Regions from separate parts of the Homo sapiens genome. Here regions 1, 2, 3, 4 and 5 are each linked to region 6. The links come from fine-mapping of genetic effects on gene expression. A gene starts in region 6. Each other region holds a variant in brackets. All regions are shown on one strand. Distances are from middle to middle. Region 1 has its middle 25 kb from the start of CPM. Region 2 overlaps CPM (carboxypeptidase M). Region 3 has its middle 120 kb from the start of CPSF6. Region 4 holds the start of TODL (transcript overexpressed in dedifferentiated liposarcoma). Region 5 has its middle 110 kb from the start of CPSF6. Region 6 holds the start of CPM (carboxypeptidase M).

The links.
Region 1: its variant is fine-mapped to the expression of CPM in whole blood (TOPMed, PIP above 0.99).
Region 2: its variant is fine-mapped to the expression of CPM in whole blood (TOPMed, PIP above 0.99).
Region 3: its variant is fine-mapped to the expression of CPM in lung (GTEx, PIP 0.97).
Region 4: its variant is fine-mapped to the expression of CPM in whole blood (TOPMed, PIP 0.98).
Region 5: its variant is fine-mapped to the expression of CPM in lung (TOPMed, PIP above 0.99).

Annotation. Positions count from the first base shown.
Region 1 is chr12:68,955,423-68,960,417 of GRCh38, forward strand. It overlaps a transcript of CPM not described here and the pseudogene PRELID2P1. Among named protein-coding and RNA genes, the nearest start is that of CPM, 25 kb to the left of the region's middle. The variant G/T (reference allele first, on the strand shown) is at 2,188.
Region 2 is chr12:68,853,693-68,858,687 of GRCh38, forward strand. CPM (carboxypeptidase M) reads right to left here. Exons shown (of 9, transcript NM_198320.5): 9 at 1-2,987. The coding sequence ends at 2,745. Among named protein-coding and RNA genes, the nearest start is that of MDM2, 48 kb to the left of the region's middle. The variant C/T (reference allele first, on the strand shown) is at 2,297.
Region 3 is chr12:69,121,456-69,126,450 of GRCh38, forward strand. No RefSeq gene overlaps it. Among named protein-coding and RNA genes, the nearest start is that of CPSF6, 120 kb to the right of the region's middle. The variant C/T (reference allele first, on the strand shown) is at 2,735.
Region 4 is chr12:69,004,492-69,009,486 of GRCh38, forward strand. It overlaps TODL (transcript overexpressed in dedifferentiated liposarcoma), which reads left to right and starts at 3,168. Exons shown (of 3, transcript XR_001749099.2): 1 at 3,168-3,245. RefSeq lists an enhancer at 2,952-3,645. The variant CCTT/C (reference allele first, on the strand shown) is at 3,184.
Region 5 is chr12:69,127,739-69,132,733 of GRCh38, forward strand. No RefSeq gene overlaps it. Among named protein-coding and RNA genes, the nearest start is that of CPSF6, 110 kb to the right of the region's middle. The variant C/G (reference allele first, on the strand shown) is at 2,507.
Region 6 is chr12:68,930,469-68,935,463 of GRCh38, forward strand. It overlaps CPM (carboxypeptidase M), which reads right to left and starts at 2,703. Exons shown (of 9, transcript NM_198320.5): 1 at 2,674-2,703; 2 at 2,210-2,372. The coding sequence starts at 2,369. RefSeq lists silencers at 2,583-2,942, 2,973-3,082.

The sequences.
Region 1 (4,995 bases), 25 kb after region 6:
GCCCCCAGGTCTGTGCTCCCCAAAGGGCCGCAGCTCTTCTCTTCTTCTTGTTGCTTACAACATGGTGAGTGTGTGTGGGGGTGGGGGGGGCATGTTTCAGCCCTGTTTAATTTATACCTCTTTTAGTCCTGCCACTTGGTGGGTCCTGAGTTCTTGTGCTGCATCCAGAAAGAATGAGGTACTCAAACAACTGGAGGATGAGCAAGGGAGAGAGGAGCTTCACTGAGCAGCAGAACAGTTCTTGAGGAGGCCCAAAGTGGGTAGCTCCTATCCGCAGACAGGTTGTCCTGAGGTCTGTGCAGCCCTCAGCTGAGAGGAGACCCAGAGCAGGTAGCTCCTATCCTCAGGCAGGTCATCCCATGTCTGCCTGAGTCTGGCTGAGTCTGGGGTTTATACAGGCTTTAGAGGGGAGAAAGTGTGTATGGATTGGTCCATGGGTGGCCATGGGTGTCCAAGAAAAAGCACCATAAGTTCTCATTCCAGTCTGCAGAACTGAAAGCCGAGCCCCCAGGCTTCAGGCCGTCCCCAGCTTGGAGGTGGGGCTTCACTGAGTACCTGCCCCTTTCCACCCAGGAGCCTGTCTGCCTCCTGCCACCATCAACCTGCCCTCCACGGCACCCACAGTGCCCAGGCTGTTCCTGCTAAGGGGCTCCTGCAGGCCTACACTGCTTTCCATGCTCGTCAGTGCCCAAAGTGTGGAGGGGTCCTAGGTGGCAGGGTGCTGGCATGTCAGTGCCTCAGAGCATGCACACTTGGCCAAGTCATGTCAGCACCCAGGTTTGGCCACAGTTTGCTCCAAAATCGGAGCAGGTGCCAGGAGCAGGGAGAGGTTAGACAGTGGGAGCAGTCACCTCTGAGTCTGCAGGGGCAGGGGGAATTCCTGGGCCCCAAGAGTGCAGGGATGCCAGGGTCTGTAGCCAGGGCTGGGCAGCTGCAGCTGCACCCAGGAGGGCAGGGATCCCATCCCGCCAACTTGGAAGGGTCTGTTCCCGGCTCCCACTGGCTCCATGGAGCCTGCTGCCCCAGCCACGCCTCCCCCACTACAGCTGGCATCATGGCAGCAGCCACTCCACACAGGCCACTGCTGCCATCACCAGCACTTGGATTCAAACCTAGGTCTGTCTGACTCCAAAACCTGGACTCCTTGCACAAAATTACCTTGTTTAATCATCACAACCCATTGGCCGAAGGACCTGTGCTTGATTATCCCCATTTGCCCAGTAAAAAACAGACAGGTTAATGATTTGCTCCACACATAGAACAAGTTATCAGGAGCCAAGGTTAGAACCTTCCTTCCCACTCTTCCGTGTTTTTTCAGAGCACCAAATCACAGTTCACATGTTACGTTGTAAAAGCTCTATTAATGGCAGTTCCATTTTACTTATGGATAGACATAAAATGTGATTTCTGAGAATCTTAAACATTGCGATAAATATGGCTTAGCTTCAACACAGGTCTGGTAAATTCCTGTTTGTTCCAGTTCACCTATGAATCAGGTACTGTTTCTACCCCTTTATTGGTTCCAGAATCCTCTCACAAGTCCTATGAACAATGGTGCTAATAACATAAGGGCACAAACACCCTCCTCGGCCTTTATCCTGTCTTTGGCTGCCCTGACGCCATCACCAGACAATCAGCAGACCACCCCGAGGAAGGGTAGACATCATCTTATCTGGGTTTTATTCCTTTATTTGTAAAATCGTAGAGATTGTATCATAAAAATCCAGCAAGAAGGTCTCATGTCCTTGAATCCCACTATTCAAAGCAGGTTCCCAGAGGAGAGCATCATTTTGTGTCCTGGCAAGAAGGTCTCTTCTTGAAGCTGCTGACATGGTATCCTCAAACCTGTATTCCAGAAATGGTGTCTGTGATGTGCTGTGACCAAGCAGTGATTCTCAGAAAAAAAAAAAAAAAGTGGTCATGGACACAGCTCTCTGGTGATTCTTTATTCAGCTAAGGGGGCACCATACTGTTCCTTTAGTAGCATCTCCATGATTCAAATTCCCTTCTGAGCTCCCTGTCTTAAGAATGTGCTGGCAAAAGTTTCCAAAATGCAGTTGAGAAATACAGCTCCAGTGACTGAAATCTTGCCTTTTTCAATGAGTTCTGTCCAATTTGGATTTTCCACACTTTCCCAGAAGACTGACTTTTCCTTCCAAAATGCATACTGTGTCCACATAAGGCAAA[G/T]ACTCCATATAATCATGTTTCTTTCTTGAGGATTGAGCCATGACTCCTCTTTTAATTGGATGTTAGATACTAAAAAGGGGATTATTATTATTATTATTATACTTTAAGTTCTAGGGTACATGTGCACAATGTGCAGGTTTGTTACATAGGTATATATGTGCCATGTTGGTTTGCTGCACCCATCAACTCATCATTTACATTAGGTATTTCTCCTAATGCTGTCCCTCCCCCAGCCACCCACCCCCTGACAGGCCCCAGTGTGTGATGTTCCCCGCCCTGTGTCCAAGTGTTCTCATTGTTCAGTTCCCACCTATGAGTGAGAACATGTGGTGTTTGGTTTTCTGTCCTTGTGATAGTTTGCTGAGAATGATAGTTTCCAGCTTCATCCATGTCCCTGCAAAGGACAAAAACTCATCCTTTTTTATGGCTGCAAAGTATTCCATGGTATACATGTGCCACATTTTCTTAATCCAGTCTATTATTGATGGACATTTGGGTTGGTTCCAAGTCTTTGCTATTGTGAATAGTGCCGCAATAAACATATGTGTGCATGTGTCTTTATAGTAGCATGATTTATAATCCTTTGGATATATACCCAGTAATGGGATGGCTGGGTCAAATGGTACTTCTAGTTCTAGATCCTTGAGGAATTGCCACACTGTCTTTCACAATGGTTGAACTAATTTACACTCCCACCAACAGTATAAAAGCATTCCTATTTCTTCACATCCTCTCCAGCTTCTGTTGTTTCCTGACTTAAAAAGGGGATTTTTAAATGCCTTTTTTAATTTTCCCCTCAAACCCCTTCCACTCAGTCCCCTCCACCCCCAGCTTTTCTGTCGCAGGAAATGAAACCACCTTACACTGTTACTCAAACCAAAACCCCAGGAGTCTTTGACTCTCCACCCACCCCAACCAATGCAATACATCAGGAAGTTCTGTTAACTCCATCACCAAGATACCTCCTAATGCTGTTTGTGACACCTCCACTGCTGCCATCTTGGTCCGAGATACCATCGTTTCTCTCCTAATCCCCTCCCTGCTTCCTCTCTGGCACCTGTAGTCTAGTTATAGCTCAAATGCCAGAGGGGTGTTTTAAAACATAATCAGAACATGTTCTTTTCACTCCAGGGGCTTCTAGTCACACTCAGAATCAAACCCAAAGCCTCTTCCTTCCTGGCCTCTGAGACGCTATATGAACTATCCCCGCCTGCCTCTCATCCCTTGGTAACACTATGTTATAGCCACACGTGCCCTGAACACACAGATCTGCCTCTCACCCAAGGGCCTTTGCACAAGCTCTGCCCTGTGCCAGACACATTCTTCTCCTAAGTCGTCCCATGTCTGGTTCCTTCTTATTCGGGTTTCAACTTCAATGCCATCCTCTTTGAGAGACCTTTGACCACTTAGATGTAGCCCCCAGTTCCTGCACCCCAGCTGTCATTTCCTTGCACATCTCTGTCTTATCTTCGTCATACCATTTACTATTATTACATATTTTCTCCTTATTTATACATTCCTGCCACCTCAGAATGTGAATGCCATGAGAATAGGGTCCTGGTCATCCCGTTCAGTGTTGCATCCCAGCACCCACAGCAGTCCCTGGCACAGAGTAAGTCTTCAGGATATGTTTGATGATTAAATGAATGAATGAATATCTTTTAGAAAGAGCCAGTCCTCTCCATAGACTGCAACCTAAATGATGAGACTCAGAAGTGTTTCAAAATCCCCATTGCCTAATAAGACATTTCAACTTTTAGATTAATTCCAGTGGCCACTGCCTTAAAATATCATTGTTATTGTAAAAAAAAAAATTACCTAAAGGAGAACAGAGGTCTTGTACTACGCTGTTAATTCTTCAAAACTTAAGACTGAGTTAGTTTTCAAATCATTTTTATCTTAGAAATCAAAGGCAGTTGGACCAAGGACAAATACATTATAATGAAAGTGTGAAAGAGAGAATATGAAAAGTTGGCTGCATGGGGGCATTGCCCAGTCAAGACAGATGTGGGTGAAACATCATGGGCAAGGAGGGGGTTTTCCCACGAGAGGCCAAAATTGGAGAGAGGGTGAAGAGAGGGTTTGCTGGGTGCTTCTCACATGCTAGCATCGTGTTAGTTGCCTTAGGAATAAGGAAGAAGTGAAGCACAAACTCTGGCCCTCAGAACCTTCTGGGAAACCTGATGCTATGGTAATTTCTGGTGAGGATGATCATGTTTAATAAACAAGGCACAAACATTTCAGCTCTGCTATATCCCCAGGCGTCTCTCCCAAAATCAGTTTACTTCTCTACTTTACAAGAAAAATCGGTTAGCTTCAGGGTTTATAAAACTCACTAAAACATACAAATGTAAAACCAAATGTTACCCTGCTGATTTGAAAGGGATTCTGGCATGACTTCTCAGATAAAGATACAAATACATTCTTTGTTCATTTCCATGAACGGCCTTTTTATGGCTTTTGAGACCTAGTCTAAGTCAGTAAAAGTCAGAATTTGTGTTGCTGATAGGTGTTGGCCTTGTAAAACTGGAAAAAAGGAATCACATTTTCTATAACATATGAATGCACAAGTGATTCATTCTTTGGCTCAGGATGGAAACATTTATTTTTGGCACTCTTGATTCTTCTTTCTTCATTAGCTTCACAGATTTTTCTCAATACGATGTCGACGTTGGATGGGCTTCATTCACAAGGAAACACCAAGATAAATGGGGTGACTAACATCCAACTATTTAAAACTTGTAAATATTTATGAGAAAATTATATCCGTCTTTGTGGGGATTTCTCTCTGAAACGTGGATGTAACTA
Region 2 (4,995 bases), 77 kb before region 6:
TACTGTCACACTGGGGATTAAGTAAAAAAAAGAGAAAGAAGGATGGGAAGGGGAGGGAAGGGGAGGGGAGCGGAGGAAAGAAGAAAAGGAAGGGAAGGGGAGGGAAAGGGAGAGAAGGGGAGGAGAGGGAAAGGAGGGAGGAAGGTAGGAAGAGGAGAAGGAAGGAAGAAAGGAAAGAAATCTGCTCACCAGAGTTGCTATTTTTTTTTTCTTTTCTGTTTAGTGCTTTACCCCTTAATTCTTATAGGTAACGGTCTAATACAGGGTAACTCTCATAGTGGAGAACTTGAGAAGCATTAGTACTTCAAATTGAGTCCTAATGGTAAAATTTTTTTCTGATAAAAAAAGGTACTTTGTAGTGCTGTTAGGAGGTAACATAATACCTTTACTACCAATCTTAGGATCAATTCAAGGTTCAGTAAAAGGAATGTATCTGGAATTCTTGATTATAGACATGAAAACACTCTTCTGTCAGCGTTCATAGTGAGCTGGGAGGTTGCCTACGCATTAAGACCTAGCTTCATAAAATGACTCAAAGCCCTAGGCAGTTTCTGGGAAGGACTGGGAGTAGCAGTCTCCTGGCACCCCTTGTTCATTCATTCATTCAGTACCTACTATGTGCTAGGCTTTGAGGATATAACAATGAATTTTTCAAACAAATTAAATAGACCTTGGCCTCAAAGAGCTCACATTCTACTAGAGAAGGCACACATGGAGAAGATTATAATACAATGTTGTAAATCCAATAGTAGAGATAACCAGTTTATTTTGGGGAGCAAAGAGAAAGGGTCCCTAACCCCAGACTGCCTGCGAAGAGGTGAAATGGAATTGAATGGGATTATGGTCAGCCAAGGCTTCCTAGTGGAGCTGCTACCTGAACTGAGTTTTAAGAGGGGTAGGAAAGAAAAAATGTAGTGGGTCATAATGGCATTCCAGATACAGGGGACACAAACAGCTCTGTGTTTATGAACTACAACCAGTTGTTGACTTTTGTTTCAAGTGGCTCCCCTTCCCCAGTGCTGTGTGGACGATGGACTGAAGAGGAGAAGGCTGGGAGCAAGGGACCAGTAAGCTGTTGCAGCAGTGCAGGTGAGATATGAGGCCTCAACTCTGCAGTGTTGACAACCATAGAGAGCAGAGAGCAGAATTCATCAATATTTATCAGCACCAATTTTTTTTTTTAAGACAGAGTCTCACTTCTTCACCCAGGCTGGAGTACAATGGCGCAATCCCGGCTCACTGCAACCTCTGCCTCCCAGGTTCAAGCGATTCTCCTGCCTCAGCCTCCCCAGTAGCTGGGATTACAGGCATGCACCACCACGCCCGACTAATTTTTTTTTTTTTTTTAGTAGAGATGGGGTTTCACCATGTTGGCCAGGCTGGTCTTGAGCTCCTGACCTCAAGTGATCCGCCCGCCTTGGCCTCCCAAAATGCTGGGATTACAGGCATGAGCCACCATGCCTGGCCAACACCAACCTTTAGTTACTTGCTGAATACACAGGATTAAGGAGGAAGAGAAAGTATCAAGGATGACTCCCAGGTTCCTAGCTTGGTGGTCCCAGTAATTGAGAGAGAGAATGCAGCAGGAAGAGCAGCTCTAGGGGGAACAGGATGAGTATCTCCACATGATGGGTTGGAGGTACCTGTGAGTCACATCCAGGTGGATGTGTCCTGTGGGCAGTGGGACGCGAGTCTGAAGCTCAGGCAAGAGGCTAGAGTTACATCTTTGGAGTCATCAGCCTAATGGAGGACTGTGGCATCCAGGTGCCAAAAGCTAGGGAAACGGCTCTGGAGAGAGAGGGGCTTTCTTAATTGACCTGTATGCTTTGAAGCTCTATAGAGACACAATCTTATCCCTTCAGGCCTGTATTTTCTTGGGCCACTAAGATGTGGTTACATATTTTCTCTCACATCTCCTAGAACGTTTGCAAAACAATTCCCAGTCCTATGATCATTTCTCCCTTCTTCTGAGAACTAATTATATATGGCACTTAATATCTATTCACATGTAGCACTCATGGTGAGGTGTTTTTTTTGTTTGTTTGTTTTTGTTTTTTTTTTTTTGAGACAGAGTCTTACTCTGTTGCCCAAGCTGGAGTACAATGGCACTATCTCGGCTCACTGCAAACTCCGCCTCTAGGGTTCAAGCGATTCTCCTGTCTCAGCCTCCTGAAAGGCTGCGATTACAGGTGCCCGCCACCACACCCCGCTAATATTTAGTAGAGACAGGGTTTCACCATGTTGGTCAGGCTGGTTTTGAACTCCTAACCTCAGGGTGATCCGCCCACCTTGGCCT[C/T]CCAAAGTGCTGGGATTACAAGGTGTGAGCCACTGCTCCTGGCCTTATGGTGAAGTCTTGTATGTAGAAGATCAATAAATGTTCATCTTCATTGCTTATATTCATCCGGTTCTCTGTATACAAAATGATCTTCTTTTTGCAGGCATTTTTTTGCTTCTCAAGTTTTAACTTCTTACACATTTTAAGACTACTTCAAGATTAATTTGAGTGTAAATGAGCAGTACTTGTTAGGTAAGTGTCTTCCATTCACCGTCAAGACTGAATCATTCTTTTCATTATCACCACATATTGCTTATTGTGGAATTTGGAAACATCCATTTCTCTTCTTCAGGAAGATCGTGGAGTTTCTCCAGTCAAGGTCCCACTAGAGTGAGTTAGGGTTGCAGTAACCTGGAGTGAGCAATCCCTGATTCCAGGTGGTGATGTGGGTTGAGTTTCACATTTTACTTTATTTGAAGAATATGTGCAAAAGACTCACTAAAAATAAGAACAAACTAGGCTTTGTTGCAGCTGAGTGGTCTGGCAAATTTCTGTATAGAGGAATCATTGGGCATGAAGGATTTGATACTGGGATAGAATCCAATTGCCCTTGGAATGGAAGTAGAATATCCTTTTTAAGAGCACTGAAGTTCTGGGATTTCTCCGGAATAATCACCTTTGTGATGTGTGGATCATGTCCAGGGACTGTAACCTGAGAAGAAACAAGAGACAATTATATGAGTGACTTAAGATGGTTCGTGGTGCCCACACTGAAAACACTGATATCCATCACTAAAATGCAGCCTTTGTGCAATGCATGTAACAATCTACCAGACCTCTGGGCCAGCAACAGATTTGGTCCTGCAGGCTGAGTTATCCAATGCCTGTTGACAGAGACCAGCGTTGTGAATGCTGTTGCCAAGAATTACAAAATGAAATAAGGACAGATGGGTACCTCATCTGGCAATGTAAGTCAAGAGAAGGAAGCAGCAGATGTTTCTGCCACCATCCTTTTCGTGGGGCAGAAGGGTAAAGAGATAACTCTTTCCCTTTGTCCCAAGTGTGTATTTAACATCCTCCTTGGATATCAAGATTATTTTCAAGTAGAATTATTTTCTCAACTTACTAATTTCTTTTCAGCTGACCTACAAGCCTATTGCTTCTTTTAAAAGCTTTTCTTTCTTTCTTTTCTTTTTTCTTTTTTTTTTTTTGAGATAGAGTCTTGCTCTGTCACCCAGCCTGGAGTACAGTGGCTCAATCTTGGCTCATTGCAACCTCCGCCTCCCGGGTTCAAGCGATTCTCCTACCTCAGCCTCCCAAGTAGCTGGGATTACAGGTGCATACCACCATGCCCAGGTAATTTTTTGTATTTTTAGTAGAGACAGGGTTTCACCACATTGGCCAGGCTGGTCTTGAACTCCTGACCTCAAGTGATCCACCTGCCTCTCAGCCTCCCAAAGTGCTGAGATTACAGTCATGAGCCACCACATCCACCCTCCTTTAAAAGCTTTGATTTTACCTGGTTTTGTTCATATCAGCCTGAATCTTTGGTTAGGCTTTCTTTTTTTTTTTAGTGGAGGAAATGATCAGGACAAGACAAATGCTAAACTAACTACAGGCAATGTCTACTGAGAAATGCTTTTATTATATATGGTGGAGAAGGGAAAAAATGGGGAATGACATTTACATAACCACTCATTGGTATGTATTTTACACATTCATTTCAATGTCCAGAGTCTTACCTTCAAATATTATCCTAGAACTAATATCTAGGGTCAATGTGTACTGTGTTAGTCTAACTAATGGGAAATGAACAATTCATAACTTTATTCTAAAGGTGTGGCTTATTTATGAGGTTGCATATAAGTTTAGATTCACTACAGGGAAAATCATATTTTTAAATAGAATAGAAATATCACAGTAAATAGGAGGAAAATAAAGGGCCTTTTTAGACAAAGATTCACAGTGAGTTGAGATTTTTCAAGCTCTATCCATTTTCTCGGCAGGAGTAGAAATTCCTAAAAGGATTAGCAATTGATAAGCCTCACATCTAGGCACCTTGGGGAGAACCCATGGAGCATGGAGGCTCTGAATTCTATAGTTTTATAAACTAAAAACCATGTTTTTTCCATGATGTCCTCAAGATGAAATAATAAAATACCAACTCAGTTTTCACTACAGAAGAGATGACTACCTTCTCCCAGGATTAGCTCTATATAGAATGACTGCTATGGTTGGCATAAGCCCCACTAAGCAAAATAGAAGAATCCTGAATTTCTCAGAGAAATTCACATCAAAGAGAAAGAGGCAAAATCTGGCCAACTATATCAATACTTATTCATTTAGTTCTTTCACATAAATCCACTCAGGCTCAAATTAGTCCATGCCTTCCTGTCTTCGGATAAAATGACTCAGAAATATATATTTTATGGAATTAAAGACTGAAATTTTACTTGCATCGATGAAAAAAGGGCTGCAAAATATGTTTATCATTTGCTGAATATAGTGTTAAAATTTGTGGATCAGATTTCACTTATAAAATGAATTCTAAGGAACTTTATCCAATTCATTTTTTATAGTAGAAAGTGTATGCCGTGGAATGGGTGTTGTGTCGTATCCTGGGAAACTATAAACTACCTTTGCTACATTGCTTATTCTTTATTATTAATCGGGTTACATTTTAATCATAAAAGATATCACAAGAGATAGGATTTGGCTTC
Region 3 (4,995 bases), 190 kb after region 6:
GGTCTCAAACTCCTGGGCTCAAGCGATCCACCCCACTCAGCCTCCCAAAGTGCTGGGATTACAGGCTTCAGCCATGATGCCTGGCTTCCAATCACATTCTTAAAAGAATACCAATTCCACATATTCCAAGGTTAATAAAATTAATTTAGCCTAAAAGATGGCTGATCAAAGGGTTCCATCCTGTATATTGTCAACAATAAAAACCGTTGGACCCCTGTGTGAATTAACTCAGAAATGAGCTTTTATCAGCAGTAGCACAAATATACACTAGGGGCTAGAGCATGGAGAGGAAAGGCAATGAAACAAGTTTGGAAATGTAAAGCAACCTTTTGTTTATTAATCCTTAGAGAGAATGGTGAAAGGGCTACTAGATTTGTGAGCTAAATTGGTTAGAAAATAATCAAATAGGCCGGGTGCGGTGGCTCACACCTGTAATCCCAGCACTTTGGGAGGCCAAGGTGGGTAGATCACCTGAGGTTGGGAGTTCAAGACCAGCCTGGCCAACATGGTGAAACCCCATCTCTACTAAAAATACAAAATTAGCCAGGTGTGGTGGCTTGTGCCTGTAATCCCAGCTACTCGGGAGGCTGAGGCAGGAGAATCACTTGAACCAGGAAGGCAGAGGTTGCAGTGAGCTGAGATTGCACCATTGCACTCTAGCCTGGACAAAAACAGCGAAACTCCATCTCAAAAAAAAGAAAAGACAGAAAAGAAAACAATCAAATACTTTCAGCCAGGCACAGTGGCTCACAACTGTAATCACAGTATTTTGTGAGGCCCAGGCAGGTGGATTGCTTGAGCCCAGAAGTTTAAGACCAGCCTAAGTAACATGGTGAAACCCCATCTCTACAAAAAAATACAAAAAATTAGCTGGGCATGGTGGCAGACACCTGTAGTCCCAGATACTCAGGAGACTGAGGTAGGAGAATCACCTGAGCCCACGAAATCAAGGCTGCAGTGAGCCATGATTACGCCACTGTACTCCAACCTGGGTGACAGAGCAAGATTCTGTCTCAAAAAAATAAAATACTTTCAACTTTCTCCTGCTGGACATTCCTCCGCCCTTTGCTAAATTCTAAAATATGTGCATATGAAAAAACAATATGATATATAGTACAAATCAATTAAAGTGCTCCTGAAGAAAAAGACAGATAAGCATATAGATTAGACATGTGGATTATAGAAGTATCAGTCCACATTTTATGGGATCTTCAATTACATAAAAAAGTGCCTAAAATTTGTAAGTAGACAGACAAGATAATGAAGTAGCAAAATACAGAACTCACGGTGTTTAATCAATGCTCACAGTGTTGCAAAATACCGTATTGTTATGTGAACAGCTCACTGAGGAGAAGGTACATAAATGGAGCTCAATGTCACAGTATATTAAAATTTAGTGCCAACCTGATCTGACACATATTCAATGGTGCATCATTATGGTGGTGCTTGAAAATTAAGAGTAAATGGGAAGTGGTTCACTTAAGTGATTTTAATTAGCACCTTACACAGTCTAATCAAGAATGTCTAGGTTTTGCTGGGAAAGGAGTGAAGTGAAACATGGCTGAGCAGCCTGCTGCGCTGGGACCCTTCTGAGAAGACAGTGAGGTCCAGGACATGGTGTCCACAGCAATAGATAGTTTCCTTGGTCCAGCAGAGCCATCCAGGGGCCTTTGGACAGCGTGGACACTGATGTCTGGGTTTTACTTGGCTGATCCCTCTGCCTGGAATACTTCCACCCCTCCACCATGTCGGGGTAAGTCAGTCTCATACTTCAGATTTCAGCTAAGGTATCATCTAGATGCATTTACTCATTTAATCCTCAGGACAGTGCCTCATGAGGAAGAAGCACTGAAATTGTAGATCAGAATGGAACGTCTAACACATATAGCCCAATTTCTTCCTCCCTTCTATAGCTGCCTCCAGTTCTCAGCTCAGGATGGAAACTTGGTGAACAGTGGGATCAGCCAGAGCGGGCAAGGCTGAGACACAGATGGAGTGTGTTATCTGGGGATTTGTGTGACCAGTGGTGGTCCAAGATGGCAGACTGTGGGCTGGAGAGGTCCAGGTAGGAGGACATCCAGACAGGTGGACAGAGCAGTGCTGGAGAGTCAGGGAGAGTGGCACAAGTTTAGACCCAGGCAGGCTGCACCCGAAAGGCCTCCCTCAAGACTCTCTATGAAGACACCAGACAGGAACACCCAGCAGGGTTAGAGAGTGAGCCATCTAAGTCAGTACCAGGGGAACTGGAGTCCCAAGTTAGAAATCAAAGTAGGGATCCAGTTGTTGGTCAGTGGGGTACAAGATCAGTGCAAAGCCTTAAGCAAGACTGACCGGAAGCTACCCAAGCTGGTCTGAAAATGTAGAGCTCCTTGATCCTCCCTTGACAAAGGAGACCCTCCTGCACTTTAGACAGGGTTAAGGAGGCACCTGCATGAGAACTGGAGTGCAACAAAGGCAATCATTGCTTCTATGGTTTGTTTGTCCAACTCCTTGTTCTTGTCACTGTGTTGAAGGATAGACTTAATTTCCATATCACAGAGATGCACTAAATGTGTTTGACTTTCAACTTAAAATAACGTTCCTTTTCTTTCTCTTTTATCTAGATCTTAGACCTTGCACTAAGCTAATAATTTACTATGGGAGAGGTCCTTGAGACTCAACACTCAGGAAATAAGGTACTCTGGGGATGTTGCCTAGATACATTGAGTTTGTTTGGCAGGGTTTTTGTTTATTC[C/T]GCCTTTGAATTTTGCCTTCAGTACATTGCATTCTCTGCTTTAGAGGAGACTAGATTTGTAGAAATCTCCAGAAATAGGCAAAATCATGAGTATTTTCTCCAACCTAAAATGGTTTGGCCTATTTCATCCCTCTTTAATATTTTGTTTAAGTTTTGCTACCTGTTTTATTTTATGAAAGTGGGGTACAGGGTGTGGGTTTTAATGGTAACGAAGCACAGGTCAAACAACAGCGGAACGTGACCATCGTGACCTAAAAATAGGTCAAAGTCACGTCTCAGGTAGCTGCACAACAAAGCAAATGCCGTCCACCTTTTTTTGGTGTGATTAAACCTAAGTTAAAGTGAAACAATAATGCAAGAATTTGTTTTTTAAAAAAACTAGGAAAAAGGAAGATTGGTTCTTGGAAATAAACCAAGGGATATGGGAGGTGCCATTCTTATTCATTTTTGAAGTGACCTCAGGCCTTGAATGAGGGAGCCCCATGTAACTAGTTTTGGGGGCGTTTAGGGATAGAAATGGGTGTTGTAAATATGCTCCTACTCATGACCCTCCCTACCCCACAACACAGGGACATCACTTTCTTCTTTTAAGCCCACATCTGAGTGCTTACCCTGTGCCGGACCCTGGTCTAGGAACCTCATAGTAACATGAAACATCCTCTCTACAACCCTGTTATGTAGGCAAATTTTATAGATGAGGAAATCAAAGCAGAGACAAGTCAGCTTGCCCAAGGTCACACAGAGAAGCAAGCCACCGATCTAGGAATCAACCTCAGACCCTTTGGCTTCAGAGCCAGAGTGCTTAACTGCATTTAATACTGTTCCCATTTTAAAAGGGATATAGAAAAGGGTCAGAGACTGCGAAACAAAACTCAGAGCAGAGACTGGGGGAAATTAGGGAAAGGGAGGGAATGCTTTCCCCTAATGTAGCCTCCCATTGGCAAATGGGGAAAATCAAGCAGCCACCCCTCCAAACGGCACTCCCAATTCCCCTCTGCTTGTTCTCTTTGCCACAGCGCCTACCATCCGCACGCTGTGCAATGTACTTGTTTGTCATGCTTATCATATTGCCTGTGTCTGCCACTAAGACGTAGGCACATAAGAACACGCATCTTCATCTGTTTTGTTCCCTGAGGTACCCAAGTTTCTAGAACTGTGCCTGGCCCGTGGTAGGCACTCAGGATTGTTTAAATAAATAATACCTGCCACCTAATGAGATAGCTGAAAAAATTAAAATCTTCAAATTAATAACACAAAACAATGTTCAAAACAGTGTTTCATGAATGGGTAAAGTATCAGGAGGCGAAGAAGACCCTTAAGGTATAGCCAAGTACAATGAGATTGTTATCGCTATGTTTCACCTCCAAAGAATTGCTCCCAGTGTAGGAGCAGCCCTGAAATCGAGGTGACACCCTTCTTCCCCGGGGAGATTAGCATATAAATAAGACAAATAAGACTAGACAAAAAGCCACCTAGAAATGAGACAGCAGGAAGCGGGAAGATGGAGGTTGTTGGTTTCGATTTTCTTTTTCTTCCCAGGTTTATTGTTTCACCCTTTCTCTCCGCTTTTTAAAATGTCCCTTTTGATCCACTTGGTTAAATAGCATTCTCAGACACTTCATTCTAGTGGAGTCTTTAATTGCATAATTTTAGAAGGTTGTGCCAGGATTGAAGTTAGACTGCACGGTGGGTTAACTGTGAATCATATTCTGTGTGGGCTGAAAAAGGGGTCTCCACGCGAAATCTGACACGAATAGTGATCAGAAGACAGTGAAGTAAGCCCAGAGAGCCCAAGCTCTGGTCCTTCAGCAGGAGCTCAGCTCCTCCCCTGCTGTTGCTGTCCTTCTTCATCCTTCTGCTGTTTGTGTGAACCATGACCCTCCCTGCAAGGCCTTGCCAGGCGCTGTCTCCACTTCTCCACTTCTTCACGTGGTCCTACCTCAGTGTGGGGCTGACATGGAAGCACAGAATTTTGCAGGATGTTGCATGAGGGATGCTACTGAAGGTTCTTTCTGGTGAGTTCCGGAGATCTGCCCAGGAACTGTGCTCACAATGACACTTTGAGCAACCTCAAGACATACAGTGCCTCACACAGGCGTTGCCATTGCAGATAAATGGCTCCAAGGAGATTCTGAATTACTCCAAAGGTGAATGAGGGAGACGTGGTTTCACACTATTTGTATTAATATACTAATAGCAAAAAGTAAAGGGAACTTGCTAGGTGCCAAGAATGGAATAAGCATTTGCATCAATTTAATCCT
Region 4 (4,995 bases), 74 kb after region 6:
AAGAGAATCAAAACCAAGATTAGTATTTTTTTTAAATTAGTGGGCTTTATTTATTTTTATTTATTTATTTATTTATTTATTTGAGATGGAGTCTTGCTCTGTTGCCCAGGCTGGAGGGCAGTGGCGCAATCTAGGCTCACTGCAACTTCCGCCACCTGGTTCAAGTGATTCTCCTGCCTCAGCCTCCCTGTAGCTGGGATTACAAGTGCACGCCAGCACGCCCAGCTAATTTTTGTATTTTTAGTAGAGATGGGGTTTCACCATGTTGGCCAGGCTGATTTGGAACTCCTGACCTCAAGTGATCTGCCTGCCTCGGCCTCCCAAAGTGCTGGGATTACAGGCGTGAAACACCACACCCAACTGATGTTAGTATGTTTTTTATGAAGTAAGAGTCAGTATATATTTGATATGTGCCAGGTGCCCTTTGTCCTCTCATAAAACTTACTACCATCCAAGCTGGAGAGGCACAGGGCTCATGTTGACCCATGAAAGCAGATTGTTATATTTTCAAAAATTTTGCAAGCTCTTATTAAACACTGTTCCAGTCCTTACAACTATACAAAAATGATAGCTAGCATTGTTGAAAACAACATGGCTGAAGCTGAAAGAGGTTTCAATTTAGGGACTAGAATTCGTACAAGGGTGGGAAATAGTTTAACAGCAGATGACATCAGATCAAATGGCAATACTTTTATGGAGAAAAGAGTTAGCAGATAGGGATGCAGCTCCATTTGTCAAATCATGGTTGAACGGCAGCCACAGTTGCAGTCACAGACACAAGAGTTTGGCAAAAATCAACAAAGGCATTCAGTGAGATTCAACTGACCACATGGAATTTACAATAAAGGGTATTGTATAGTTGATTATTACTTGGAAGTTGTGTGCTACATATATTTACTAACATTCCTTTTCTCCCACAGCCAGTTGTTAAACACTTACCCCACTAGGGAGACAGACCATTAACAAATACACGGATAATAAATACGGTAAATTCAGGTGGTAGTAAGAGTTGTGAAGGAATTTGAGCAGAGTGATGTGGCCGAGAGTGACTGATGGGTGGGAAAGTCTTATGACACGGGCAGGGTTGTGAATGGGGAGAGTTAGCCAGCACATGAGGATCAGGGAGGTTATAGGTAGAAGGAAGAGCAAGCCCAAAGGCCATAAGGGAGGAAAAAATTTGCACGTTGCTATCATTGCTATTGTTAGCAGAATCTGCACTTGAGACCCCAGATCCAAGGATTCCACTCATCCCTTTCTTTCCCAGTCTGTAGCTGGGCAGTTGCTCAGGGTCACGATCTATTTGGCCCTGAAAGAAACACCTGGGGTTCCTGACTTCCTCCACAACGTTTCAGACACTATCAGAGTTCTGTATGGTTTAGATTATAAATGTTCTATGTATTCCTTTCTTGTTTCTCTTCTTTGGTGGAATTTGAAGCCATGGAACCTATATTTTTCCATTTTCCTTGTTCCTAAACTATCTTTCTTACCCAGGTCTAAACTAGATTCCATTGGATGTCTGAGGTCCACCTCCAAATTTTCTCCCATGGTAGAGTTGTGTAACCCAAAAATAAAATTCTAAGCCCTCCAACCCTCTGAATGGACTCCTCCTCTCGGCAAGGGCATCCCAAAGTTAACCTGAAAAAACAAGTTCAGGCCATTATGGAAAGTGGGAGCCAGACATGCCTCATTATACCCTCTTCCTTTTTGGAATTACTGACAGAACAGACTCTTTAAGTCTGATAAGAAACATTTACAAGCTCTCTGAAGCCTGCTACCTGGAGGCTTCATCTGCATGATAAATCTTTGGTGTCCACAACCCCTTATCATAACCCAGACATTCCTTCCGTCCTTTCTATTGATAATTACTCTTTCAACTAATTGCCCAGAAAATCTTTAAATCCTCCTATGACCTGGAAGCAGCCACCCCATCTCCAGGTGCTTCCAGTTGTCCCACCTTTCTAGACTGAATGAATGTACATTTTACATGGGATGATTGATGTCTTGCCTTATGTCTCCCTAAAATGTATAAAACCAAGTTGTGGCTCAACCACCTTGGGCACATCAGGACCTCCTGCGTCAGGAGGTCACAGGAGGCTGTATCATGGGTGCATCCTTAACCTTAGCCAAAAAAATCTCTAAGTTCTTTGAGATCTGTCGCAGATACTTTTGGTTTACGGTTGTGATTCCTCCAAGTGCCTCATTGCTAGGCTCATTTAATGATGTGGTTGGGGCTAGCAATTCTTTTTTTCAGTTTGGCTTTGGAAATTTACAGCTCCTAAAGTCAAACCAAAGTTTTGGGGCAGGTGTTTTGATTTTATATACCTTCAGTAATTGCACTTACTTGGTCCTTGTTGGTTCCTGAAATTCAGATCCTGCCTAGGCTCTGGGGAAATGCTCAAAGGATGTTTCTTTGTCATATAACAACAACACAGTCAACTCTTAAATGTCATGACTGTAATTCATTCCTTAATGATGGTGCAAATGAGTTAAATCTTTCATATTGTAGACTTTTAACTTTGCAAACATCCTTTAAAAAGCCATTACAGGGATATGCTCACTCCAACAGAGAAGTGCTTTGGCTGCAGCATGAAATAGCTAATTCATAATTTAAAGTATGATGCCTCTCCCTTTTCCCCTTTTTAGATAGTTTATAAAAAGGGAAACTTTCTCCTGTGTGTGCTGAGGGGCTGGATTTTTCACTGGCTGTTTGCCTTCCGAGCACTTTCTTCATGGCCAGCACTTATGAGCAAGCCTGGTGTGTTTAACTTAGCTGGTGAAATGATCAACGGTAAACGTCAGTTGCTGACATTAGAGCCAGCTGCTTGAAGTGTCAGCGCAGCTGCTTTGTGAGATGAGAACAAGATCTTACTGCTGCTCCTTGTTCCGTGGCGAGGCAACAAGAAAATGCCCATTATGAACCAAGGGGCTCATAACACATTCATTTTTACTCCTTTTACCACCAGCTCAGATTTCTATAGAGTGAAACCTAAGTTCAGAAATCTGGAAGCAAATGCAAAAAAAATGTACCCCTGCTTCTGAAACTGTGCTCTATTACTCACGGATTTCAGGATCTGCTTTTTCTTTTTTTTGATTGTATGACTCACATAGATTTTAAGGAACCACCCATGAGGGCCCCTATGCATTTGGATAATTAAGATTCTTCCTGGGTGAAGAGCAACAGTC[CCTT/C]CTTTCTGAATGACTGAAGATTTAAGAGCTCTGCATGCCCTGAACTACACTGTCCTGCGGTGAGGCTTTGTTTTCCCTTGTTCTGGTCCTGCTGGACCTAGAGATTGGGGTGCGAAGGTGCTTAGGGTGCAACAAAGGAAAGAATTGAGCAGGCCTGGACAATGTCACCTCACCAAAGCGGGGGCAGAAGGCAGCAGAGGAAAGGTGCTTAGTGCAAGCCTAAGGATCTTGTAAGCCTTTGTAGCCCGGACTCTGACCAGCCTGTTGTTTCTTTAACATCCTGCATTCAAGTATTTGATGCAAATATGATTGCCTCTAGGCAAGAGAATATAAATATTTGCCGAATGTATAATTGAATGGAAAAAATAGCTGTGTAAGTGAGGACAGCGATGATCTCTTCTTGCCTTCTTCTCTTTGTCCTGCTCCCTCTCCTTTCTTCCTTGGTTTTCAAAGAATTCAAAACAAAACAAAACAAAACAAAACAAAATGTAGAAACCTGTTTTGTCCTGGGAGTGTAGTTTCACCAGCTCCCTGCTGTTCCAGTCTATCCAAGCTGTCAATCAAAGCAAACAACAGAAGTTGGCTAGCATTCAAAGGAAAAATGTGTTTTATTACACATTTTGACATATGTTGGATGATTTAGTAAGATCATGGTGCCTTGTCTCATTTTCGAAGACTTCCTGAGTTCATTTTTTTTTCTTTTTTTCATAACTTTCATTGAACTTTTAATGGCCTTTTTGTATTTTTCTCATGGAGGATGCTTCATTAATAGAGGGACTATGTCCAGTAGGAAAATATAAAGTGGTTTTTTATTTTTAGAGAAAACAGGTACTAATATGAAATGGATGAAGTGCCTTCCAAGCCCATGGTTTCCAGGCTGTGTACCAAGGTGCCCTGGGGTGCCACTGGATATTTTAGAATTGTAAGGAAAGCACAGTGATACCTGACACCCATTCAGGTACCACACAAACTATTAGCTCACGGTAGTTGACAGCGTCACCATTAGATTGTGCAACATTTCAACATTTCTTTTGATTATGTCATATTACTTGTGAAGCTGGGTCTACTGTGCCTATCCTGTGGCACTACGTGCAGAAACATGAAACAGGAAATGAGGGTGGTGGTGTCCAGTCTAATTCCAAGGCTTGAGAAGTGAGAAAAGAGGCTGGGCATGGAGGCTTACTCCAGTAATCCTAGCATTTTGGGAGATCGTGGCAGGAAGATTGCTTGAACCTGGGAATCTGGGACCAGCCTGGGAAACACAGAGGAAGACCTTGTCTCTACAAAAATAAAAATAAAAATTAGCTGAGTGTAGTGGTGTACAGTGGTAGTCCCGGCTACTCTGGAGGCTGAGGTGGGAGGATGGCTTGAGCCCAGGAGTTGGAGGCTGCAGTGGGCTATAATCATGCCACTGCATTTCAGCAGAGCAAGACCCTGTTTCAAAACAAAACAAAGAAATGAGAGAGAGAGAAAAAGAGAGAGAGAAAGAGAGAGGAAAGAAGAAGATAAAGAAGCAGAAGGAGAAGAAGAAGAAGAGGAAGAAGAAGAAGAATAAGAAGCAGCAGCAGCTAAGAGAAGAGAAGAGGCGAGAAGAACTTTTATCTGAGGAATCCAAATCCTTTTAAATTACCAAGCCCAGAGAGACATTAAAATCAAACAGCAATCACATTCTATCGCCTCCTTTGAGCTACATATTCATCTCTTGAAATTGCTTGCTATTGCTACAAGTATCTATAAATTAACCTAATAATGTTGCATCAGACAATACAACCCATACCCTATAGCTGAACAATGTATAGCCTATCACTA
Region 5 (4,995 bases), 200 kb after region 6:
CTTTCTTTTTTTTTATTTGAGACAGAGTTTTACTCTTGTCACCCAGGCTGGAGTGTAGTGGTGTGATCTCGGCTCACTGCAACCTCTGCCTCTTGGGTTCAAGCGATTCTTCTGCCTCAGTCTCCCAAGTAGCTGGGATTACAGGCATGGGCCACCATACCCGGCTAGTTTTGTATTTTTAGTAGAGACAGGGTGTCACCGTGTTGGCCATGCTGGTCTCGAACTCCCGACCTCAGGTAATCCACCCACCTCAGCCTCCCAAAGTGCTGGGATTCCAGGCATGAGCCACTGCACCAATGTCAGTTTCTTAGTTTTGGCAAATGTACCACATTAATGTGAGATGTTAACATAGAGAAAACTGGGTAAGGGGTAAGTGGTAAAACTCTCTACTATCTTTGCAACTTTTCTGTAAATCAAAAATTACTCTGAAATTAAAAGTTTATTAAGGAAGAAACCCTATGTGGTAGGCACCAGGACAGTTTTACACCAGAAGACTGTAGCTTAAAGAGGTTAATTTGCCTATAGTATCACAGCTACCGAAGGATTTATCCTAATCTACCACTAGCACAATTTAAACAGGATTGCATGTGGTTCATTTAATCTCTTAGCACCTTTTGTGGTATCCTATGGGCCATTATAACCTGATGACTGCTGGGAGGGCCTGGCATTGCCACATAGCTCTTTTCCTGACCCAATAGCAGCACCTTATAGTATTTATTGAACATGCTTTATTTTATTTGATTGTTAAAACAACCCTCCAAAGTATTATTACATATTATATACAAGGAAACTAAGCCTTAAAGAGGTTCAGGGATGGGCACTGTGGCTCAAGCCTGTAATCCCAGCACTTTGGGAGGCTGAAGTGGGTGGATCACGAGGTCAAGAGATCGACAGCATCTTGGCCAACATGGTGAAACCCCTTCTGTACTAAAAATACAAAAATTAGCTGGGCGTGGTGGTGCGTGCCTGTAGTCCTAGCTACTCAGGAGGCTGAGGCAGGAGAATCACTTGAACCCAGGAAGCAGAGGATGCAGTGAGCAGAGATCACACCACTGTACTCTAGCCTGGCAACAGAGCAAGACTCCATCTCAAAAAAAAAAAAAAAAAGTTCAGTAACTTGCCCAATGTCATTCAGTAACTAATTGGAGTTTGAATGTGAACTCAAGTCTATGTAAAACCAAAGCATTGGCATAACCACTCCTAATTCACACTCTGTCCTGCCTCCATGCTGCTCATGGTTTTATCGGTCTTAACTATAGCAATAATGAATATTAATTATAGATGAGAAATGACTGTTACAGTGAATGGAAACTTTCTTAAGCACTTTTTGTAAAATAAGGCTGTCATCAGGAAACAATAATCAAAGCAACTATTCCTAGGGTCTTTGAGTTATACTTTCTCACTTTTCTAACAGAGCTGAGTTTTTCACTGCTTTTCTTCCTGCAGAGTCAATATTGCTGTTGTGCAGTGAGCTGGAGGCTGTTCTCTCTATGCATCATAAATACCAACTGTCATCAAAGAATATACACTATCTGCATGTGTGTTACTGAAATGAGCAAAAAGCATACAACTTCATTTCCAAGTTCCAGGATGATTTTATAAAATACACAGTTGAAACAAAATCTCTTAACTTTAGTAAGCGTTTTTGGAGGGAAAATTCCTTGTAGTTCCACATTATGTTTTAAACTCAAGGACTTAAGACCTCATATAGGCTTAAGATCTTTTTCTGTTTCTTTTGTCAACACATTTGTGTTCCCTCTTTTATTAATTATTTGTAAGCAAAATGAGGACAATAGAAGGCAACTTCTTTTGCTTTCCAAATTGTAATTTCTGAGGAAACTGTTGAAGAAAACTGCCCTTTTTTCATGTAACAAAAAATGTTTAGGTTGTGGCCATGCTATTTCTTTGCCGCTGAAGTTAAGGAAAGCCTAGTGCTCACTTTCTCCAGCTACCAGATGAGACAAACCACAGTTATTTCTTGGTCAAGAGACCTGAAAGGTTAAAATGTGGTCATCCGAGCCAGTAAAGAGAACACAGCAGTAACCTTTGACCTTCTCTCCTGCAACTCTAATTGCTTGTCCCAATGCTGGGCCAATGCTCAGCCCGTAGAGACATCTTCCATTGGGCCCAGAGACATCTTCCATTCAGAAGCTCAACTGGGGCTGAGGTTAATGAAGCCAGTCCACTCGCCCACCAGGTAAGCAACAAAAGTAGAGGCAGTAATATATCCTGGGAGCTCTCAGTGAAGCATCAGGCCTTATACTGAAATACTTTGTATTTTTTTCTTTGAGAAAAGCCTATTTTTCAGTAATAGTTCCGATTGATAACAACAGTAAAGCTAGAAGCAAGTAATGTGTATAAAATACCTACAAATGTACCAGGAATTGTACTACATGGTTTTACTCAAATGATCTAATTTAATCTTGAGTCAGGTGCTACTACTTATCTGCATGTTATAGGTGAAGAAATACAAGGCAATGATTTTGAAACAGTCTTCCTTAGAGCT[C/G]CCCCTGGGGAAAGGCAGGAAAATGAGGGCCAGACTCCAGATCCCCACTCCTAACTTAAGCAGAGCAGTTATGCTTTTATCTATTTTGCTTATTAGGCATTAATGGAAACTCATTTTAAAAAAGAGATCCATGCTGTAATGGTTAGTTTTATGTATCAATTTGGCTAGGCAATAATACCTAGTTATTTAATCAAACACTAATCTAGGTGTTGCTGGGAGGATATTTTGTACATGTGATTAACATGTACAGCAGCTGGCATGGTGACATGCCTGTAGTCCCAGCTACTCAGGAAGCTGAGGCAGGAGGATCGCCTGAGCCCAGGAGTTTCAGCCCAGCCTGGGTAATGTAGTGAGACCCCTGTCTCTAAAAAAATTAAAAAAAGATCATTATTTTTAAAAGTCACAACTAGTAGATTTTAGTAAAGGAGATTATTCTTCAAAATGTGGGTATTTTAGTATCATCCAATCAGTTGAAAGGCCTTATGAGCAAAAACTGATTTCCAGAGAGGAAGAAATTGTCTTAAGGCTGCAACATTGGCTAGGCGCCGTGGCTCACGCCTGTAATCCCAGCACTTTGGGAGGCCAAGGCGGACAGATCATGAGGTCAAGAGATTGAGACTATCCTGGCCAACATGGTGAAAACCCGTCTCTACTAAAAATACAAAAATTAGCTGGGCATGGTGGCACGTGCCTGTAGTCCCAGCTACTCGGGAGGCTACTTGCTTGAACCCGGGAGGCGGAGGTTGCAGTGAGCCAAGATCGTGCCACTGCACTCCAGCCTGGCAACAGAGCAAGACTCGGTCTCAAAAAAAGAAAAAAAAAAAAGACTGCAACATTAACTCCTGCCTGAGTTTCCAGCCTGTCCTAGAGACTTTGAACTTGCCAACCCCTACAATCACATGAGCCAATTCCTTAAAATATCCATCTATCTTTATCCTACTGGTTCTGTTTCTCTAAATAACCCTGACTGACACATGGTTTAAACAAAAGCTCTATAGCCTTGCTACTCAATCTGTGGTCTGCAGGGCAGCAGCATCCACATCAGCAGGGAGCTTATTAGCAATGCAGAATGTCAGGCCCCACCCTAGACATACTCAATTAAAAACTGCATTTTAACAAGATCCCCAGGTGATCCTTAAGCACATTAAGTTAGAGGAGGGCTTAATACAACATAAAGAAATTAGACCACAACGATTTTACCAAAATAAAATCCCCAAACATTTCAACCTTGAGGGAGACTCTGAAACTTCTGAAAAAGAAAATAAAAGTTCCACCTTGCCCCCTTTGAACTAGACAGCCCACTAACTGCCTTGTGTCAATGTCATCAACCGCGTGAACTTGTTCTGAAGCCTCCAGGCCACCAAAGCAGAGATATCATAAGCCCAGAAATAGACCTATTTGCTTCTATCAGAGATAGCTTGTCAGCTCCTACTGTATTGATATCCATTTCTCATCCTTCCTCGTGGAAATCAAACATTACTTTATTCTTCTTCATTAGTAGGAACATAAATCGAAGACAGTGAAAAGTGTTGACTAATTGATATCCAGTTCCAAAAGGACTTATAAAATAACTGTCTAAGACAAAGGCATCATCCAGGCTCAACCTTGGATAAAATCCATAAGATTGAATAGAATTTCATAATTTCTTCTCTTTGACTAAAATCCCTCCTGCTTCATATCCAGCTTTGCACTCAACCACCATGTGCTGCTGAAGAAAAGGGTGAGATAATTTCTTTAACCGTTACTGCTCAGTCCATTCATCAGCCCAGGGATAAAACACACCTGACAAGAGCCTCATGTCATTCTCTGTAGCTGAGATTTACAGTACCAGCAGGTGAGTAAGTCACCACCTGCACTGGATGCTATAACTCAGAATTATTTAAATCCTCCTGTGCTTCTGCTAGAATCATTTTCATAATTCATTTTATATACTATTTTTTTTTTAGAAAGGGTCTCACTCTCTTGCCTAGGCTGGTGTACAGTGACGTGATTATGTTTCACTACAGCCTCAACCTCTTGGGTTCAAGCAAGCCTTCCACCTCAGCCTCCCAAGTAGCTGGGACTATAGGCATGCACCACCATACCTGGCTGATTTTTAAATTTTTTGCAGAGATGGGGTCTTGCTTTGTTGCCCAGGCTGGTCTCATACTCCTGGGCTCAAGCAATCCTCCTGCCTCAGCCTCCTGAAGTGCTAGGATTACAGGCGTGAGCCACCATGCCTAGTCCCGTGTTATAGTCTAAATAGACTTGTGGGAAACCATTTCATATGCCAAGAGTCAAAATGAATGACTAGGCTGGGCATGGTGGCTCACGCCTGTAATCCCAGCACTTTGGGAGGCTGAGGCAGGCAGATCACCTGAGGTCAGGAGTTCAAGACCAGCCTGGCCAATATGGTGAAACCCCATCTCTACTAAAAATACAAAATTAGCCGGGCATGGTGGTGCATGCTTGTAATCCCAGCTTCTTGGGAGGCTGAGGCAGGAGAATCG
Region 6 (4,995 bases):
GGAGCACCATCTCTCAATTGTCACACTAATGTGCAGTGACACTTTGGCAACTGACTCCCAGTTACTGGCATACAGTTTCATCTACCAGTTGGAGCCAAATGGCAGATTTGGGATTTTTCTTAATCCGAGTTATTATTCAGAACAACATATTCAACACAAATATTTAACCACTAGTGTCAGATTTTATTTTTACATGATAACTCCTCAAGCCTTTAACCGCAAGAGTGCATACAAGGTAAAATTAAAAACAAAATTAAGCCTGCTGACTTTCACTGTGATTGTGGTTTGATATCATGCAGGATAGATCACAACTGCTGATTCATATTAGGAAAGAGAGCCCCCAACTGTCACAAGCACATTGTGTTTGAAAATACAAAACCTTACCAAATCACTTAGTACTTAAAATTAACAACATCCTCATCATCTTGTGGTTGAAATGATGACTGAACAATAACTCAAGCTAGTTGTGTTCTATATATTTTTAATTAATATAATTAGTATTCCTAGATCTTTTTAAATTGCTCTACTCTAGCCCTAGGGAAAAATGATTTCAGAAGGCTGAATACGTATGCTGATTCAAGATATGATTTCTCACACACCCAACCTCTATAATTTTGGATTATAGAGCAATATAGAGTAATTCTGGCACCATCTCTTTGGCAATGCTGTTTAAAAACAAAGTTACTATTACACACAGCCCAGGATATTGACTTCGCATTGCACATAAATACATTTATATAATACTTTTTCTTTAATATAGAAGCCATAGCCTTGATTTTTTTGAAAAATGATGAAGAATATGGTAATTATGAGACTCTCAATTGACTCAAAAGTTCAGAGCTAAAATCAAGGTAGAGTTTGAACACACCTTACAAAAAGTTGAGATCCAAATTGCATAAAATTTATGAAACTTTTGATTTAAGGACTAAGTTTTCTGGTAACCTCTTTGGGAACATCAGGATAATAAAAGATGATTAAGTAATAATGGTATCTCGGCCGGGCACGGTGGCTCATACCTGTAATCCTAGCACTTTGGGAGGCCGAAGCAGGAGGATCACAAGGTCAGGAGTTTGAGACCAGCCTGGCCAATATGGTGAAACCCCATCTCTACTAAAAATACAAAAAAATTAGCCAGCTGTGGTGGCGCATTCCTGTAATCCCAGCTACTCGGGAGACTGAGGCAGGAGAATTGCTTGAACTCAGGAAGCCGGAGGTTGCAGTGAGCCGAGATCACGCCACTGCACTCCAGCCTGGGCAACAGAGCGAGACTCTGACCAAAAAAAAAAAAAAAAAAAAAAGAAAGAAAGAAAGAAAGAAAGAAAGATGAAATAACGATATCTGATCAAATTATTTGCCTTGGCCGGATGGGTGCCAGTCCTGGCTATAAAATTCACCATCTGGGAGACCTTGAACAAATTATTTAATTTATCTGATTCAAACTTGCTGTCTATAAAAATGAAAATAACTTTATGTAGTTTCTAACTTAGAACAATAAATTATTAATGATAAATATGAAAATGCTGGGAAGAGTTTCAATCACTACTAATATATATTCATTATCTAGCATTGTCTTCTTCAAATGGATACATTTTAAAAACAGCCTTTAATCATAGAACCACTTTTTTGCATAACTTTAAGCCATAGGGCTAATTATACACGACACAAATCTAACCAACAGAACTGTACTACTTAGATTAAAAGAAACTTGCAGAAATGATAGTTTTGCATAACTTTAAATAAAAGGCTAACTACAGATGACACAGAAATCTTACCAACAAAACTGCATTATTTCAGTTTAAAAGAGACATGAAGAAATGACATTAACAGTCCAAGTCATATATAAAGAAGCCCACACAAAGGGGAACTGAAACGGATAAACGGACTTACTTGGGAGTTTATCTTGAAAAGGAACTAAAACATACATCCCAAATAACCAATGTCTGCAAGATCCAAAAAGACAGAAGAACTCCAATAATGGAAAGGACTCAGTGACACTGAATTACAATGGACAAGTCCAGTAAAATTCAGTTCTTCCTACTATTCCTCCCAACAAAAGCAGAAAACAACCAACACGCACGGTACCGGTTGACTTGTTCTGTGCCACTCAGAGTAGGTGCGTGGAAGAGCAGACAGGAAGCTGGGGCATATTTAATGAATACTGAAAGGGAGGACTGAGGGTTTGGCAAAGTGTTCACGAGACGGACCCTACCTTTCACAGATTTCCCAATACTGTGTAAGTGAGTGACAGAACTGTAGTTTTGGGCAACAGTCTTCAAAAACGCTTCCATCCCTTCCTGGCGGTGGTAGTTGAAATCCAGCGCAGCTACCAAAGGCAGCAACAGCCCTAGCCAGAGGCACGGGAAGTCCATGTTCTAGAGATGAATAAAAATAAGAAGAACCTGAGAACACATGAGGGCAGGCGGGGGCATCACCAGCTACGTCTCGGTACTCCGGTCTCAGGGTCTCCCGACACTGACGCTCCCTGCCTCCTAAGGAGGCAAAAGCTGGAAGCAACACCTTCGGGAGTGAGCCGTGCAACCAGAGACCGGGAGCACGGGCAGCCTCGGTGCCCTCGACCCAGCCGCCCGCGCCTCCCTCTCCTCCTCCTCCTGGCGCCTCCGCCGTCCGGCAGCTGCCACAGCTGCGCCCGGCCCCGCGCACCCCCAGCCTCACCAGGTCCCAGGCGCGCACCTCTACCCACCCGCGGCCGCCCGGCGGGGCCGGGTGTTATAGCCCGGTCAGAGGGCGGGCGCGCCCGGGCCCCGCCCCCGGACGTCCCTCCGGCCCACTCCGGAGCCGCGCGGGTGCCTCCCGGGCGGGGCCTCAGCCGCCTTCGCACCTAGGAGAGACGGCGCCCGCGCGGTGCGCCCTTTCGTGGCGCGGCTGCTGGTGCCCGCGGCCGGGCGGCTGAGCTGGGCGGAGGGCTGCGGGCATGGAGTCGCCGCTCGCGGACAGTCTTTGCTGGAGCCCCAGGTCAGAAGTGTGTCCTCGCCTCGGCCACGGCTGTAGCCTGGGCAGCCACAGGGCGCTCCACCGAGGGACACTCTCTGTCGCAGACTGCAGCCGCTTGGGAGACGTTTAGGGCTCGGCGGGTTTCCTGCGGTTGGCGGTGCCGGGGCCCACCTGGAGCCGGGACGCATGCGGAGTCCTGAGTGCCCTGAGCCCCGCGCGGGCTCCTGCGGGACGGGCGGCGTCGGCCCCGGCAGGGCGAGCCAAGCTCCCAGCAGTGCCAAGCTGCCCAGCGAGGCTAAGCAATCACGGGGCTTCGAGAAAGAACGCGCGCGTGTGTGGAAGTTTTAAATGCCACGAAGTGCAGAGTGCAGGACATTTTCCAACAAGTTTACATAGTGGGTGGGATTTGTGTAAATTAGAATTGAATTTAAAACTGGAAGTCACATCGAAGAAGGCAGGACCACTGTTGTAAATCCGATGCTTCCTCCACCTGCACCTGAGTCTTAGGCCAATTACAGGTCTCTCGTCCTAAAACGTCCTAAAATGCTCCTTTCTGGAAGGATGGCATGGTCTCTGCACGAGAGAGAACGAAGGCTTCACTCAAACCTGAGAGGTGGTTTGTGGCACGGGCCAACCCCCTCTACCTCTCTAAAAGATTCATTCTCATTCATTCTCTCTCTCTCCCCTCCCCCTCTCCCCTTCCCTCTCTCCCCCTTTCTCCCACTCTCTCCCGGATTGTAAGTAACCGTGTCAGGGTATTGGGGGCCCGTGTCAAGGTCCGCAGAATATAAAAAGTTTGAAAACCACTGATTTGAGATAACATTCCACTTTTACAGACTAAAAATACGGATGCAAGCCCACGACTAATTGAATAGAATTTTTCTCGTGGAGGCCCAAGAAAGTGTATTTTTAGAGAGGACCTTGAATGAATCTAATGTGCCTTCAAGAGCTGAGAACCGTTAGATTCCCTGCCCCTTCTTTCTTACAGATATAGATACTTTTCCTAGAATTGCGCACTCAGGACTCCCTGAGACTTCCAGTGATTCTGCCGCAGCATAGAAGAGTGGTTTAAGAACTGAGGCGCTCTGCCCTTGCGATAGTTTGCTGAGAATGATGGTTTCCAGCTTCATCCATGTCCGTACAAAGGACATGAACTCATCCTTTTTTATGGCTGCATAGTATTCCGTGGTGTATATGTGCCACAGTTGTGCACATGTGCCCTAGAACTTAAAGTATATATAAAGAAAAAAAAAGAACTGAGGCGCTCACGGGATGAGTGCCAATTCTTGCTCTGACACTCAGTGGCTGTGTCGACTCTGTGCCTTATTTTCTGGTGTGTAAAGTGGAAGTCTTAATTGTACCTACCTAAATAAGGTTGGCAGGCACATTGTAAGAACTGTGCGAAGCGTTTATTACATAAATAAACCAGCTTAATTCGTAACTCTTTAAAGGGAATTTTCCAAGAGTTGGAATTTTTTTTTTAATTTTTTATTTCTTTCTTTATTTTTTGAGATGGAGTCTCAATTCTGTTGCCCAGTCTGGAGTGCAATGGCATGATCTCGGCTCACTGCAACCTCCTCTCAGGTTCAAGCAATTCTCCTGCCTCAGCCTACCGAGTAGCTCGGATTACAGGCACCTGCCACCAGGCCCGGCTAATTTTTGTATTTTTAGTAGAGACGGGGTTTCACCATGTTGGCCAGGCTGGTCTGGAACTCCCGACCTCGGGCGATCTGCCTGCCTCGGCCTCCCAGATCGCTGGGATTACAGGCGTGAGCCACCGTGCCTGGCCATCTTTTTTTTTTTCTTAAAGAGAAGTTGTTTTATTGTTTGTTTGTTTGTTTGTTTGTTTGTTTGTTTTGAGATACAGTCTCACTCTGTTGCCCAGGCTTGAGTGCAGTGGTGCAATCTCAGCTCACTGCAGCCTCTGCCTTCCAGGTTCAAGCGATTCTTGTGTTTCAGCCTCTAACGTACCTGGGATTACAGGCACGCATCGCCACACCTACGTAACTTTTGTATTTTTACACCACACATGCCTAACTTCTG